Linked DNA regions of Homo sapiens: region 2 is linked to region 1. A link means that fine-mapping ties the variant in region 1 to the expression of a gene that starts in the linked region. Tissue or cell type: skeletal muscle. Region 1 holds a variant in brackets; the other region holds the start of a gene. All regions are shown on one strand. Distances are from middle to middle.

The links. PIP is the estimated chance that this variant, and not a neighbour inherited with it, causes the effect.
Region 2: IBSP starts here. The variant in region 1 is fine-mapped to the expression of IBSP in skeletal muscle (FUSION, PIP 0.95).

The regions. Positions count from the first base shown.
Region 1 is chr4:87,702,731-87,710,842 of GRCh38, reverse strand. All of the region lies in intron 2 of DMP1-AS1 (DMP1 and DSPP antisense RNA 1), which reads left to right. Among named protein-coding and RNA genes, the nearest start is that of DMP1-AS1, 26 kb to the left of the region's middle. RefSeq lists an enhancer at 1-180. The variant AGG/G (reference allele first, on the strand shown) is at 4,892.
Region 2 is chr4:87,795,076-87,803,187 of GRCh38, reverse strand. IBSP (integrin binding sialoprotein) reads right to left here and starts at 3,634. Exons shown (of 7, transcript NM_004967.4): 1 at 3,555-3,634; 2 at 773-840; 3 at 630-680; 4 at 457-534. The coding sequence starts at 826. RefSeq lists cis regulatory regions at 3,829-3,835, 4,037-4,046, promoters at 3,486-3,959, 3,577-4,564, 3,577-8,112 and a silencer at 4,564-8,107.

The DNA of each region.
Region 1 (8,112 bases):
ACCTAAGCAAGCCTGGGCAATGGCGGGCGCCCCTCCCCCAGCCTCGCTGCCACCTTGCAGTTTGATCTCAAACTGCTGTGCTAGCAATCAGCGAGACTCCGTGGGCGTAGGACCCTCCGAGCCAGGTGCGGGATATAATCTTGTGGTGCCCCATTTTTTAAGCCAGTCGGAAAAGCGCAGTATTCGGGTGGGAGTGACCCGATTTTCCAGGTGCGTCCGTCACCCCTTTCTTTGACTCGGAAAGGGAACTCCCTGACCCCTTGCGCTTCCCAAGTGGGGCAATGCCTCGCCCTGCTTCGGCTCGCGCACGGTGCGCGCACCCACTGACCTGCACCCACTATCTGGCACTCCCTAGTGAGATGAACCCGGTACCTCAGATGGAAATGCAGAAATCACCATCTTCTGCGTCGCTCACGCTGGGAGCTGTAGACCGGAGCTGTTCCTATTCGGCCATCTTGGCTCCTGTCCCTGATAGCTTTTTCATAACGTTAAAAGTGAGTATGTAAAATGATTTGAATCACACTTTTAAAACCAAAGATAAAGGCTAAGACAAGATTTTCCAGATACTTGGTAAGATTTGGGGAAAAAAATTTCTGCAAACAAATTTTAAAAATCCATACTGGAGAAAAAATGAGGTAATATAATGAATACTAAAGTCATGTTTTAAGGAATGTTTTATCTGGAGTTTACCATCTTATAACAAATATTTTTGAAGCTGAAGTTAACACCTGTAATGGTATCTGTAGGTCAGTGGACTGATTCAGAGGCAAAGGGCTGTTTTGCTTAAATATCATGCCACCTAATTAGACTCTACACTTTTTAATTTAAAAAATTCTAGTTTCTTTTTAGTTAGAATTAAAATGAACATGAAAATTGATAAGCAAATATATAAAAGAGCTATAATATGTAACTGCTTCTTATCAGTCACTGGTTATTTATTAAATATTTATTTGTGTCCACAGTTGTGCCAAGTTCTAAGGAAATGTGAATGAAATATGAAAACATGATTTTAAACTTTAATAGACTTTCTGTTAATTAGGGGGAGGGATGCAAAACAACAATTTTGTTTTGTTCTGTTTTGAGACAAAGTCTCACTTGTTGCCCAGGCTGGAGTGCAGCAGCGCCATGATGGCTCACTGCAGCCTCGTCGGGTGATCCTCGCACCTCAGCCTCTCGAGTAGCTGGGACCACAGGCATGAACACCATGCTCAGCTCATTTTTGTATCTTTTGTAGAGACAGGGTTTTGCTGTGTTGCCCAGGCTGGTATCGAACTACTCGGCTCAAGCAAACCACCTACTTCAGCCTCCCAAAATGTTGGGATTACAGGTGTGAGCCACTGCACCCGGCAAAAACAACAGTTCTGACTATATCATTTCAAAAATTTCCAGTGACCCCCTCTTTTAACCAGTGATACCATTACATGGTATTTAAGGACTTCCTCCATGTACACTATCCCACAGTTCTCCTCCAGACACTCTAAAGCACAGTTAGACGACAGTGGCTCATTAGTCCTTGATAGTGCCCTCACCAGACTCCACGCCTGTGTCAGGCAGTGCCTGCCAGAGTGCTCTCTCTCTCGGTATCAGAATCTTCTACCTCAGTTAAATGAATCATTATTTCTTCCTCATTCCCTTCGTGGTAGAAGTAAGCCTTCCCTTGTCTGAATTCTTTTAGCTGTCTTTATTTCTCATGGTACTTTTTAAACTCAAAACACTACTATAACTATTTGTCTATATTTCTTATTTGCTCAACTAATATTACCTTAAGGGTTTTGTAATAGCATACTTGTCTATATATCTCCATATATGTTGCTTAACTCAGTTTCTGATTTATAATATGTATTTAAACATGTAGTAGTTGAATGAATGCACATTTGAAATAATTAGGCAATAACTAAGAATAATAATTGTGTGGCACTAAATGCAGATAACAAGAGAGTAAAAGGAATTTGAAGGAGAGGGTTAAATCACTTGAAAGTGGGCTATAATAGTCTAAGCAGACTAAATGGAGGATTTAAGCTTGGTTTGGATCTTTAGGGCTGATGGTGCAAATTGGAACCAGAGTGGCTAAGAACAAATAGAAGTAGGAGTGTGGCTGCCAGATTAGAAGAGGAGAAGAAAGAAAACAAAAGGTAAGGATACAAGAGGAAAGTTTCGGGAATTACCTAATGATATGGCTAGGCAGGAAACACGCAGGCCATAAGACCAGACTTGATTAGCTGGAAGCCCAGAAAGTAAGCTCTGCTTTCAGGATTCAGGCTGTTTGTAGAGAAGTAACATGTTCAAGAGAAAAAGAATGGAGTTTTGTGTTTAAAAAGGGCTGGATCTGATATCAGTTTCACTATCGTTTTTGTTAGGCATGGGATTCACTAATCCTGCGTTTTCTCATCAATAAAATGGGAGTTATAACTCCCACACAATTTGGTTGTTATGGGGGTTAATTAAGATACTATGTGGGAAGTTCTTGACACAGAGCTCTCAGTAAAAGATGACCATCATTAATGTTTGCTATGGGCTCCAATTTGAACACTTGTTAGGTATGTTGTCTCCAGTCCATTAGCAGCCAGATGGTCTCTGGGACTTGTCCTGTTCCTGATTATTGCAGAAAAAGCCTTTCTCAAATTAAGATGGAGATCCTGATAGAAATGATCATGATGATGATGATGACGATGAAAATTATAACAGAACTTATAGTAGCTAATATTAATTGAGTGCTTATTATGTGATAGGAACCATGTTAATTGTCTCATAAGAATTACAGCATTTAATCCTAACAAAAATGTGTATTGTAAATGAAACAACTGGGACTGATTTTTGAGCATTGTAGCAGGGGTCCTTTGGAACAAAATGTGTCTAGATCCCAGGAATCCCAGTCACTAGAAATACAGTGGAAGCCAGAACAGGGAGGCCAGGCGCAGGGAAAAGGCCCCTAGATGAAGAGACTTACCCCACCATGGAATCCAAGACAGTAGTCAAAAGGGGTAGGAGTCTCAGATCTGACCAAGGAGGGGCTTTCTACCAGGGACTCTGATCCAGCAAGCAGGCCAGGGTATGGGGGAGCCCAGGCAGCAGGCACTGCTTTAGGCAGGTGGTGGAACTGTGATTCCAAGCAGGGGCCTTCTCAGCAGCAGGAGATTACAGGAAGCAAGATACTGCCTCCCTGGGGAAAGAGTTTAGCAAGAGCTACGCATGATAAGGACACCATCTCATGAACTAGGGCAAAAATGTCAAAAATCTGTGTCTCTTGTACAATTTGAGCAAGGAAATGGCCCCCGGAAGCCTGTGTTTGAGACCCAATCTAGGCCTAACAAGGAAGAATATTGTGATTGATTAGCGAAGTCTGCCTCTAGTGCTAGGGAAAGAAGCGACAATATACTGCTTGTGAATCTTGGCTGTCCTAGAACAACCTGGAAGACTTGAAGAAAAAAGGAGAGAGATTGATATAAAAGGGGATTATTGTGAAGGGACTATGCAAAGCTTTTAGAGGCTGCAGGGAAGGAGAAAAGGTAATTTTGAGCCTGTCAATTCTGCTGAAAACTGAACAGAAGGATCATGCCTGTGACAATTCTGTATACCCCCTTTCCCCAAGCTGTGGCCTTCTTAAGTACTGAGAATAGTGTCCTGGTGCCCCAGCTGCCCATGTGCTCCCAAAGTAAAGGCTTGGGATCCAATGCGCCATGTTTCCAATCTGCTATTTTTAAAGACTCATGAGTTTCTCAGAAAAATCCAATATGTATCTCAGAAGAAATCACATTGAGAAACAAAATATAGAAGTGGGCAAAAAAGATATACACATATTAAATTTATTATTTTTATAATAATATTAACTGGTGCTATTGTTTTGAAATAAAAAAAGAACAATTGTATTTTGCATAAAACCCTCTTTTGAGAAATATATTTAAGTTTCAATGTTTTCTATTTATTTGCTTACATAAGAAAGGACACAAATGCCAGCAAAAAGGAAATATCTCAAAAACCTTTCAACATATATTATAGCAAATTATTCTTTTTTTAAGTGAGGAAGAGGGAGATGGTTATTTGAACATTTTTCCTTCTTGAAACTACATTCCTGTGGTATTACTCAAATTAAATCTCTCAGTCATATTGAAAGTGGAAAGAGAAAAAGACTATATTAAAACCAAACAAAATGAATCTGGATCTTTTCATTATATTTTTCTATGTTTGTAACTGCCCAACCTGTTCTGTTTGTGAAAATATACAAATATAACTCTCCACAAAAAGAAACACTGGTCAGTCTTACCAGCCCTGTTTTTAAAAGTAGACTTTTTTTTGAGGGACCAAGAGTAAGGTGACTATATGTAGAAATGCCTATTTGAAAACCCTTCTTTTATTCATATAGTAACCTCTCAATTTATGTCTTACATGCTTTTTTTGAAAAAAGACAAAGTTGTGTCAGAAAATATCGTTAGAATGATTGTATAGATTTCCAAATTGTGTCTTTTGCTTTAACAACTCATTTTTGAATTGTGGGATTACTTAACGTAACAGAACTCTCATCATGCACAGAGCAACAAGCATGATATATTATCTACAAAGTGAGTTTACAAATAGAAGGTAACAAAGATGTAAAAAAGTAATATCTCTTGTCTTCATCGTTTGTGCATGTAAATACATGTATATATACAGTTCACTTTTTAATTTACTCATTCATTTAAAAAGCATTTTTAGTGGGCTGCCTAAAGATATGTGTACTGGAACCTGTGAATGTGGCCTTCTTTGGAAAAAGGGTCTTTGCAGCAGACATAGTTAAGAGTCTTGAGATAACATCATCCTGGATTACATCTGGGCCCTAAATCCAACAACAAGTGTCTTTATAAAAGGCAGAAGAGAAGACAGAGAGACAGAGAGAGACAGAGAGAGAGAGAGAGAG[AGG/G]GAGAGAGGGAAGAGAAGCCTGTGTGAAGATGCAGGCAGTGACTGGAGGTGTGCAGTCACAAACCAAGGAACAGCAGGTGCTGTGAGAAGCTGGCAGAGGCAAGCAAGTATTCTCCCCTAGACAGAGAGTGGGAGACCCTTGAGAGCCTTGACTTCCTACTTCTAGCCTCCCGAACTAGGAGAGAATCAATTTGTGTTGTTACCAGTTTGTGGTAATTTGTTACAGCAGCCCTAGGAAACTAATACAGTGTCTTTCAGCACCTTCATGTGCCACGTATACTGTCAGGCAAGAACACATCTGTGATAAGATATCATGTTGCCCTTGAAAGGATCACAATCCAGTGCATGAAACAGGCATTTAACAATGAGTATTCTAGGTGTTGTTTAGACTAAGAGGCAGTGGGGGTCTGGAACAGGAGTCTCATTTACTGGGAGCCTTCAACTGTGCATGAGCGCACTGTAAAGGGCTCAGGTACCTAAATACTCCAAGATGCCTGGAAGTACTAGGGGAAACTTCCCAGCAGAAACAGTGTTCTAGCCAGACTTGAAGTATGAACAGAAATTTTCATGATGAAATATTGGAAAGCAGGCCATGTAGGAGATATCAAGCAGAAGAAATTGGAAGTATAAAAGGCAAAAAATGTCACAAAGCAAAATAGAAAAGTTTCAGTTTGGCACAAGATGAAGCTAAAAATGCATTCATTGAATCCAAATTGTAAAAGGCATACTTTCCCTGCTGACAAGTTATGCTGTTAAGTGAAGGCGGATCTGGCTGTTCACTAGGATGTCAAGGTGATGAAGAGATGGGGTGGGGAGAAAATGGAGAACTATAACCTATGAAAGGGTATGATTTGAGGCCAGGGGCAGTGGTTCATGCCTGTAATCCCAACACTTTGGGAGGATGAGGTGGTTGGATCATTTGAGGTCAGGAGTTCAAGACCAGCCTGGCCAACATGGTGAAACCCCATCTCTACTAAAAATACAAAAATTAGCAGGTTGTGGTGGTGTGTGCCTGTAGTCCCAGCTACTTGGGAGGCTGAAGTAGGAGAATCGCTTGAATCCAGGAGGTGGAGGTTGCAGTGAGCCAAGATTGCACAACTGCACCCCAGCCTGGGTGGCAGAGCAAGACTACATTTCAAATAAAAAATAAAAAATAAAAAGTAAAGAAAGAAAGAAAAGAAAAGGAAGAAAAAGAAAAAAAGAGAAAGAACATCATCTGAGCTGATTTTAGGAAATCACTCTACTCTGGTGGTATTTTTCTTTTAGTTAATAATGTATGTTTTTACCCATTATTTTCCCTCTTCCCTTCCCCTATTCATATAGGTAAGAGGTTCACATGTTCCTTGCCTTGAGGAGAGTTTGAGACATGACTTCCTGGCTTTTGTTTTTAAAACCCTAAATTCACTGAAAGAATAGTTTGAGGAGGTGGTTCTTGGACAACAAGACATACAAAGAGAAAAAGAGAGAGAGAGAAGGAGAGAGAGATTTCCCAGGCTAAAAAGAAAGTTTTCTTCTGGATTGAGAACTAGATTGAGGCTGATGGTTTGAGAGCAGTACAGATAAATGGACATATGCTGCATGTGACATGCAGGATCCTAGGCTTGTGGCTGTAGCTCATTGAAGATATTGTATGCCAAGAGAGGCGAGGAGCAGCAGAGCATCAAATTGAAGGATCTCTGCAGCTCTACAGGCTGGGGCTACAATCTTAGCAGAAATCAGTGTAGCCTCATGACCGATGACTTGAGGGACTTCCCAAAACTTGATACTCCCCTAGACACTCAGCACAATCACAGCCGGGGAAGTGGCTGCTAAGAATGAGTGAAGTTGAACTTTCCACCAGTTCAACTAGATAGAAACTTGACATCTAATTTAAATAAAAGAACAGAATATGGTATTTTACTGAGTCTCTAAGATACATATCCACTAATGAAAGTAGTGTCATGGCAGTGATACTACTTGTATTTAATATCTCTTCTTTCTTTTTTAATAAGAGAACTCCTGAGTGTTAGCTGGGACCATGGTTGTACAGAATGAAAAGTCCATTTCCCAGCCCCCATTGTAGACTAAGCTCTGGGGTTTGAGTAATGTGCTGCTTATGGCTCATGTTTTTCAAGGAAAAGGGTGTACTCTTTCCTTCTGCTTTTCTCCCTTCCAACAAATTAGAGTAAGAGCAAAGTAGTGAGCCCTCTCAGATAAGCATGATTCGAGGAGTAGTAGATCCACAAGAGAGAAGGACTTCAGACCCCTGGCAACTTTACAGAAGGAACTTCCCATTCAAGTAGGAATTTACATGGAACAGAAATAAGCTTCTGTCTTGTGGACCAACATTTTTCATGTCCTTGTCAAATAAGCTGAACTAACATTCCACTAATACCAGTCTATGAAAGGAACTGGAATTGGAAGAGATTGCTGGTGGGGAACATTTTTGAAAATCCAACTTCTGGCCCTGGACATGATGGAAGGAATAGATATTAGACTTATTCTCCCACTTTTACATATGTGAGACTGTATAAGATATATTAATCAAGTTTTTCCAGGCTTTGGTCAACAGACAGCCAAGGGCTATAATCCTTGAGAGAGACATAAAGCATAGGTGGATGCCTTACTTACTATAGTTTACTATCTGAGAGTAATTTCCAAACTGTGACCCCAAAAAGTGGAGTTTAAGCAGACAGCAACAGTCTTGCTGGCCATATAAAAGGGAGATTGAAATTTAGGACTACTGAAGGAGCTGAAATTTGCATCTCAGGTTACCAGAAATAAAGGAGCTTAGCAGACAAGAGTCCCCAGGAATCTGCATCAATATCCTCTGTTAAGTCTTTGACTGAATGCCTGTGCATGCATATGGTACAATTCAAAGAGGCCTAGGAAAAAGCAGATACTTTGGGCTGCTTTTTGTGGCTTAAATGGAAATACTAGAGAATACATAGTGCTGAGAGACAGGGGAATGCCAACAACCCAAAATTGAGGCCCCAGAAAGATCATGATTTAGGAGTAGGGACTACTCTAGCCCTGGCATAAGTGTACTCTAGGCCTACTCTAACAAAGCTGAAAACCAAGCCCCTCAGCAGAATCAAGCTGAGCTGCCAGTAACTTAATCCTCTGCCAGAATAAGATCCAATATTCTTCATAGGAAGACAAATAAATTCAGAAGCTCAACAATATAGCATCCCATGTCAGGCTTAAAAATTAAAAATTACTAGCCGTATGGAGAATTTT
Region 2 (8,112 bases), 92 kb before region 1:
ATGGCCTCTGATGTTTATGAAGTCAAATTTTCCCCTACCAATTAAAGGACTCTGCAGTGCCACATGTAAACAGCTATCTGACAGTATTGAATCAGCTGTAATAGGACAGCCAGTGACCTTATCACTGATGGAATTGGTCAACAACTGATAAAACTGTCCACTTTTGTCTGTGAGTTAGCAAAAATACCAGAGCTCAATGTGCTACAGTGTTTGTTTTTATTATATCATTCTAGACTGTACCCAAATGATCCAAATGATTTTACTCTGTGTATATGTCTGCCTTAAAAGAGAACTTAGAAATAAACCTTATTTCCCTAAAAACAAACTTCTTATAGTAAGCAGTCTTTTTGACTGAATTTCAGTGAGAGTTGAATTTAGGTGTTTTATAGTTAAAATTTGATCTCCTTTAAATTATAATAGAAATTAAACTGAAGAAAAATGAATTTCTATATTTACCTGAACTGGAAATCGTTTTAAATGAGGATAAAAGTAGGCATGCTTGTAAAGATAATATCGTGGCCTGTACTTAAAGACCTGCAAAAACAAAATAAATGATATATTCATGTTTAATATGCAATAAATATACAGCAAGTATAATCAGGCCAAGGAAGTATGCTAAAATTAATTACCCCATTTTCTTCAGAATCCTCTATTTTGACTCTTCGATGCAAATTTTTCATCTGTTTTAAAGAACATTTAATTATTGCATAATTTTTCTTTTACATAAAAAGACAAAACTGAAAATAACTGTGGGTTTTGATAAAGAACTTACTGAGAAAGCACAGGCCATTCCCAAAATGCTGAGCAAAATTAAAGCAGTCTTCATTTTGGTGATTGCTTCTGGAATTAATGAAGTGGTAAGGTTAATAAAATATTAAAACTAAGAGCATAACTTTTTTACTCATATTCAAAGATGAAGTATTTAATTTGTTTTCATTTCTGTGTAATTATCACTTTGACTAATTAAAACTAAATTATTCCTTTTATTTTCAAATTATTCCTTCCATTTAAGTAATATAAGACTGACTTAACCCATCCGTTTAAATAATCTTGAGTTCCATACTTGGTTTTAACCTATTTTTTGTGATTTCTCAATGGAAGACCTTTTCATTACTGCAAGAGATTTTGACTACTTAGGGTACTTCACACTGGCGTAATGGCCCTCTTAATATTGACATGGAGTGTCAGCTAAGTGAATTGAATTGTTAGTGTAGTTGTGTGCCCTGTTTGTTTGTTTACAATTAAAAACTCGACCAGGTATGGTGGCTCATGCCTCTAAAACCAGTACTTTGGGAGGCCAAGGTGGGCAGATCGCTTGAGTCCAAGAGTTTGAGATGAGCCTGGGCAACATGGTGAAACTTGTCCTCTACAAACAGTGCAGAAATTAGCTTGGCATGGTGGTGCACACCAGTAGGCCTAGTTACTCGAGAGGCTGAGCCTGGGAGGCCAAGGTTGCAGTGAGCCGTGTTCATACCACTGTACTCCACCCTGGGCAACAGAGTGAGATCCTGTCTCAAAAATAAAACAAAAAAGCAAAAATCACTGATACCCTATAGGCGGTTTCCAGCTTCTATATAGGTTTTGGGCTAAAAATTTATTTGTAAAATGGAAAGTAGGAGCAATTTTCCTCTGAACATCTTGGAATAATTGGTGTGTGTGTGTGTGTATATGCGTGTGTGTGTGTGTGTGTGTGTGTGTGTGTGTGTATGGGTGGGTGGATGAGAGACAGAGACAGAGAGACAGAGAGGATCCATAATATATGAAATATCACACTGACATCATGTAGCACGCAACAGCAACTCCGCTAAGGATGCTTCCATGAGGAGTTCTTCAGAGTTTCGCCTTGAGATATCGGGGGCAGATTTCCTCAAATTAATTTGCTCTCCAGCTCCATTTAAGCTTTCCATCTGCTAGTGTATGAGACTGTACTGGGATGGATTAGGGGCTCTCCAGGGTTAGGGTGACAGACATGGATGAAAATTTCAATTCTATGGAACAATCGAAGATGCAGCTCTCAAAGTGGGAATAGGGCCTGAATAATCTTGGGGATTGCAGCCATAAAAAGAGCCTCAGTTCCACATAAATTCCTCATGAGTAAAAGGAGATAGTGAAATGCTATCCTATCTTAATTTTATTCTATTTAATAAAATTGTATTTAAAATTATATCATAATAGAAGTTGGGCAAGCTTAGCTGAAAGCCTACTAACACTCAGCCATTTACATTTACATACACATTTAACTGTTAGCACCTTCTCATACACAGTCACAGCTTTGGCAATATTTTGGAAGCAAAATGTAGTGGTGATGGCAATTTCCCATGAATACATTTTGAAAATAATACTTAAAATGTGCAAACCAATGTCATATATTGAAACCTGCTGGTAAATTGTGTATTGTGTCATCATCAGCCAAGATTTATTGCATCCTTACTGAGTATCTGACACTAAGTCCTGGAGATACTGTCTTGGGTCCTAAGTCACACTCTTTTTGTGTGTCAGAGTGAGTCTTTGGGTTTTGGTGCCCAGACAGTTTCTCACAGTCCTATCTTAGTAAAAGGTCTTGATGGCCCCTTGGGAATAAACAGGCTTTGCTCCTGAAGGAGCCCATCTTTTTAAGCAGCACTGATTTCTATCGGGGTGGTCTAAATAATGCTTTGAACTTTGCCAGCCGTGACCAAGCCCATCAGCAAAACAGAAAGATTATTGCTTTGCCACTTTGTGAGAAGGGTCGGAATATTTATAATATTTTAAAGAGCTAAAAGCTTAGATACATAGAATTATAGAAATAGTTTTGATTACACAAATTTCTCATAACAATAAAAATAACCAGATGAAAAGATGGCATAAATAATAATAATAACAATACAAAGAACCAAGTAGTTCTTGTAGTCAGGATTGGCTGCCTATATAAATCTAATTTTATTTACTTTGTGAGTCAACAAAAAGCCAAGACCTCTATAGTGACCACTACTAACCCAGACAACAATTCAAACATTCTTAAAGGAGAATTTTGAGGATTTAATTTCAAGTTTTATTGGGAAGGGTATGATAAACTACCAAGAGTATTTATTTCTCTAGTTAGTACAATATATTTTCTGTTCTGACTTTAGAGCTATAGGAAACATCAAAACCTAATGTTTAATATGTTGAAAAGACAACATATGTACTTGAAGTACAGACTAGGTATAATTTGTAGAGAAATATGCATATATCTAGCCAGATTTGCAAATGCAAAATAGTATTTCAATCAGGTTATCTTGAATGCATCAGAATGAGAAAACAAACAGTTAAGCTATGATTTGCAGAGAATGAAAGTAAGAAGCATAATGTAGTTTATGTGCATAGTATTAAGAACTTATTTACATGCTTAGGTTAATAAGTTTAGCCTTTTGGAAAGAATTTAAAATCTGAAGTGCCAGTTTAATGATAAATAATTATTAAACCATGTACAATGCAATAACATCATTTAAATGAAAAATTCAAAGCCAAGTTCAGAGATGTAAACTATGGAGTGTCTAATTTTATGATAATGAAGTTGTTCTATTAAATCTTACCCTCTGGCAGTCCTGGAGTGAGGAAGCAGGCTCAAGGCAGTGAGTGGCACAGATTGAGTATTTCCTCTGCCCTCTCACTCACTCATTCACTTGCTCTTGCTGGCTATAAACTCTTCTTTGCCTTCCAACAGCCAATCACTGTCACGACCAAGGTGATGTCAGAACGTGGATTCTCACCAGAAAACCCCCAAACTTCAACACTTTTTCAAGACACAGGCTCAGTTGAATAAACAAGAAACGTGATTCTAGAGCCAAGAGGTTTGCATTGTGGAATTTAATTGAAGGTTTAGATGAAGATGAATAGTTTGGGCTCCGAATATGTATAATAATATACTGGATTTGAATTAAAATAAATAACAAAGGCTTTAACCTTTTAAAAATTTCATAATTATACAAGTTTTCACTATGTCGAAAGAAAGGAAAGCTTGCTGTCATTAGATATAATTTTACATTAGTTTAGCTAAAAAAAGAAAGAAAAACTAAATAATAAGGGAAAGGAGCAGATGAACCATCAATATTTTAATATCATTTGATGTTTCCTCCTGAAATATACTTCATTGACTCATAAATTAAAGTTGATATGATTAAGTCGGTCAGACTTTGTAAGATATAGTTGCTAAAACATGATGCTGAGTATAAAAGTTAGAACTTTTGAGAATCATACCACTGAGAGGCAGATTTTATATTTTGTTTTGTAAATTAAATCTCTGTATATTGTCCATTTATGTGGCCCTTCCTGTCGTGCATGTGAGGTCAGCTCATTTTTTTCTTGGGCTTCTATATATATCTTTTCTATTCATTTTCATATTTAATTTTTTTCCTATGAGAATAACAAAATGACTAGAGCTAGCAGGAGTGATCCATTGTTTTTGAAATGATTCATGAAACCAACACCACAAAGAATGGATTGATAAACTAAAGTACTAATTTTTTAATTTACAAAGGGAAATCTAGCTTAATAGTTTGCATATTCTCCTAGTCTAGTCATTTTATTCTTCCTCCAGTTGCGAAGTCTGCTTGAGAAATCAAAAATTAATGAATATCATTTTTTTTCTTTTTTTCTCTTAATTTTTTTTATTATTATACTTTAAGTTTTAGGGTACATGTGCACATTGTGCAGGTTAGTTACATACGTATACATGTGCCATGCTGGTGTGCTGCACCCACTAACTCATCATCTAGCATTAGGTATATCTCCCAATGCTATCCCTCCCCACTCCCCCCACCCCACAACAGTCCCCAGAGTGTGATGTTCCCCTTCCTGTGTCCATGTGATCTCATTGTTCAATTCCCACCTATGAGTGAGAATATGTGGTGTTTGGTTTTTTGTTCTTGTGATAGTTTACTGAGAATGATGGTTTCCAATTTCATACATGTCCCCACAAAGGACATGAACTCATCATTTTTTATGGCTGCATAGTATTCCATGGTGTATATGTGCCACATTTTCTTAATCCAATCTATCATTGTTGGACATTTGGGTTGGTTCCAAGTCTTTGCTATTGTGAATAATGCCGCAATAAACATACGTGTGCATGTGTCTTTATAGCAGCATGATTTATAGTCCTTTGGGTATATACCCAGTAATGGGATTGCTGGGTCAAATGGTATTTCTAGTTCTAGATCCCTGAGGAATTGCCACACTGACTTCCACAATGGTTGAACTAGTTTACAGTCCCACCAACAGCGTAAAAGTGTTCCTATTTCTCCACATCCTCTCCAGCACCTGTTGTTTCCTGACTTTTTAATGATTGCCATTCTAACTGGTGTGAGATGGTATCTCATAGTGGTTTTGATTTGCATTTCTCTGATGGCCAGTGATGGTGAGCATTTTTTCATGTGTTTTTTGGCTGCATAAATGTCTTCTTTTGAGAAGGGTCTGTTCAAGTCCTTTGCCCACTTTTTGATGGGGTTGTTTGTTTTTTTCTTGTAAATTTGTTTGAGTTCATTGTAGATTCTGGATATTAGCCCTTTGTCAGATGAGTAGGTTGCGAAAATTTTCTCCCATTTTGTAGGTTGCCTGTTCACTCTGATGGTAGTTTCTTTTGCTGTGCAGAAGCTCTTTAGTTTAATTAGATCCCATTTGTCAATTTTGTCTTTTGTTGCCTTGCTTTTGGTGTTTTAGACATGAAGTCCTTGCCCATGCCTATGTCCTGAATGGTAATGCCTAGGTTTTCTTCTAGGGTTTTTATGGTTTTAGGTCTAACGTTTAAGTCTTTAATCCATCTTGAATTGATTTTTGTATAAGGTGTAAGGAAGGGATCCAGTTTCAGCTTTCTACATATGGCTAGCCAGTTTTCCCAGCACCATTTATTAAATAGGGAATCCTTTCCCCATTGCTTGTTTTTCTCAGGTTTGTCAAAGATCAGATAGTTGTAGATATGTGGCGTTATTTCTGAGGGCTCTGTTCTGTTCCATTGATCTATATCTCTGTTTTGGTACCAGTACCATGCTGTTTTGGTTACTGTAGCCTTGTAGTATAGTTTGAAGTCAGGTAGTGTGATGCCTCCAGCTTTGTTCTTTTGGCTTAGGATTGCCTTGGTGATGCGGGCTCTTTTTTGGTTCCATATGAACTTGAAAGTAGTTTTTTCCAATTCTGTGAAGAAAGGCATTGGTAGCTTGATGGGGATGGCATTGAATCTGTAAATTACCTTGGGCAGTATGGCTATTTTCACGATATTGATTCTTCCTACCATGAGCATGGAATGTTCTTCCATTTGTTTGTATCCTCTTTTATTTCCTTGAGCAGCGGTTTGTAGTTCTCCTTGAAGAGGTCCTTCACATCCCTTGTAAGTTGGATTCCTAGGTATTTTATTCTCTTTGAAGCAATTGTGAATGGGAGTTCACTCATGATTTGGCTCTCTGTTTGTCTGTTGTTGGTGTATAGGAATGCTTGTGATTTTTGCACATTGATTTTGTATCCTGAGACTTTGCTGAAGTTGCTTATCAGCTTAAAGAGATTTTGGGCTGAGACAATGGGGTTTTCTAGATATACAATCATGTCATCTGCAAACAGGGACAATTTGACTTCCTCTTTTCCTAATTGAATACCCTTTATTTCCTTCTCCTGCCTGATTGCCCTGGCCAGAACTTCCAACACTATGTTGAATAGGAGTGGTGAGAGAGGGCATCCCTGTCTTGTGCCAGTTTTCAAAGGGAATGCTTCCAGTTTTTGCCCATTCAGTATGATATTGGCTGTGGGTTTGTCATAGATAGCTCTTATTATTTTGAAATATGTCCCATCAATACCTAATTTATTGAGAGTTTTTAGCATGAAAGGTTGTTGAATTTTGTCAAAGGCCTTTTCTGCATCTATTGAGATAATCATGTGGTTTTTGTCTTTGGCTCTGTTTATATGCTGGATTACATTTATTGATTTGCGTATATTGAACCAGCCTTGCATCCCAGGGATGAAGTCGACTTGATCATGGTGGATAAGCTTTTTGATGTGCTGCTGGATTTGGTTTGCCAGTATTTTATTGAGGATTTTTGCATCAATGTTCATCAAGGATATTGGTCTAAAATTCTCTTTTTTGGTTGTGTCTCTGCCAGGCTTTGGTATCAGAATGATGCTGGCCTCATAAAAAGAGTTAGGGAGGATTCCTTCTTTTTCTATTGATTGGAATAGTTTCAGAAGGAATGGTACCAGTTCCTCCTTGTACCTCTGGTAGAATTCGGCTGTGAATCCATCTGGTCCTGGACTCTTTTTGGTTGGTAAGCTATTGATTATTGCCACAATTTCAGATCCTGTTATTGGTCTATTCAGAGATTCAACTTCTTCCTGGTTTAGTCTTGGGAGAGTGTATGTGTCAAGGAATTTATCCATTTCTTCTAGATTTTCTAGTTTATTTGCATAGAGGTGTTTGTAGTATTCTCTGATGGTAGTTTGTATTTCTGTGGGATCGTTGGTGATATCCCCTTTATCATTTTTTATTGCGTCTATTTGATTCTTCTCTCTTTTCTTCTTTATTAGTCTTGCTAGCGGTCTATCAATTTTGTTGATCCTTTCAAAAAACCAGCTCCTGGATTCATTAATTTTTTGAAGAGTTTTTTGTGTCTCTATTTCCTTCAGTTCTGCTCTGATTTTAGTTATTTTTTGCCTTCTGCTAGCTTTTGAATGTGTTTGCTCTTGCTTTTCTAGTTCTTTTAATTGTGACGTTAGGGTGTCAATTTTGGATCTTTCCTGCTTTCTTTTGTGGGCATTTAGTGCTATAAATTTCCCTCTACACACTGCTTTGAATGCGTCCTAGAGATTCTGGTATGTTGTGTCTTTGTTCTCATTGGTTTCAAAGAACATCTTTATTTCTGCCTTCATTTCATTATGTACCCAGTAGTCATTCAGGAGCAGGTTGTTCAGTTTCCATGTAGTTGAGCGGTTTGGGTGAGATTCTTAATCCTGAGTTCTAGTTTGATTGCACTGTGGTCTGAGAGATAGTTTGTTATAATTTCTGTTCTTTTACATTTGCTGAGGAGAGCTTTACTTCCAAGTATGTGGTCAATTTTGGAATAGGTGTGGTGTGGTGCTGAAAAAAATGTATATTCTGTTGATTTAGATTCT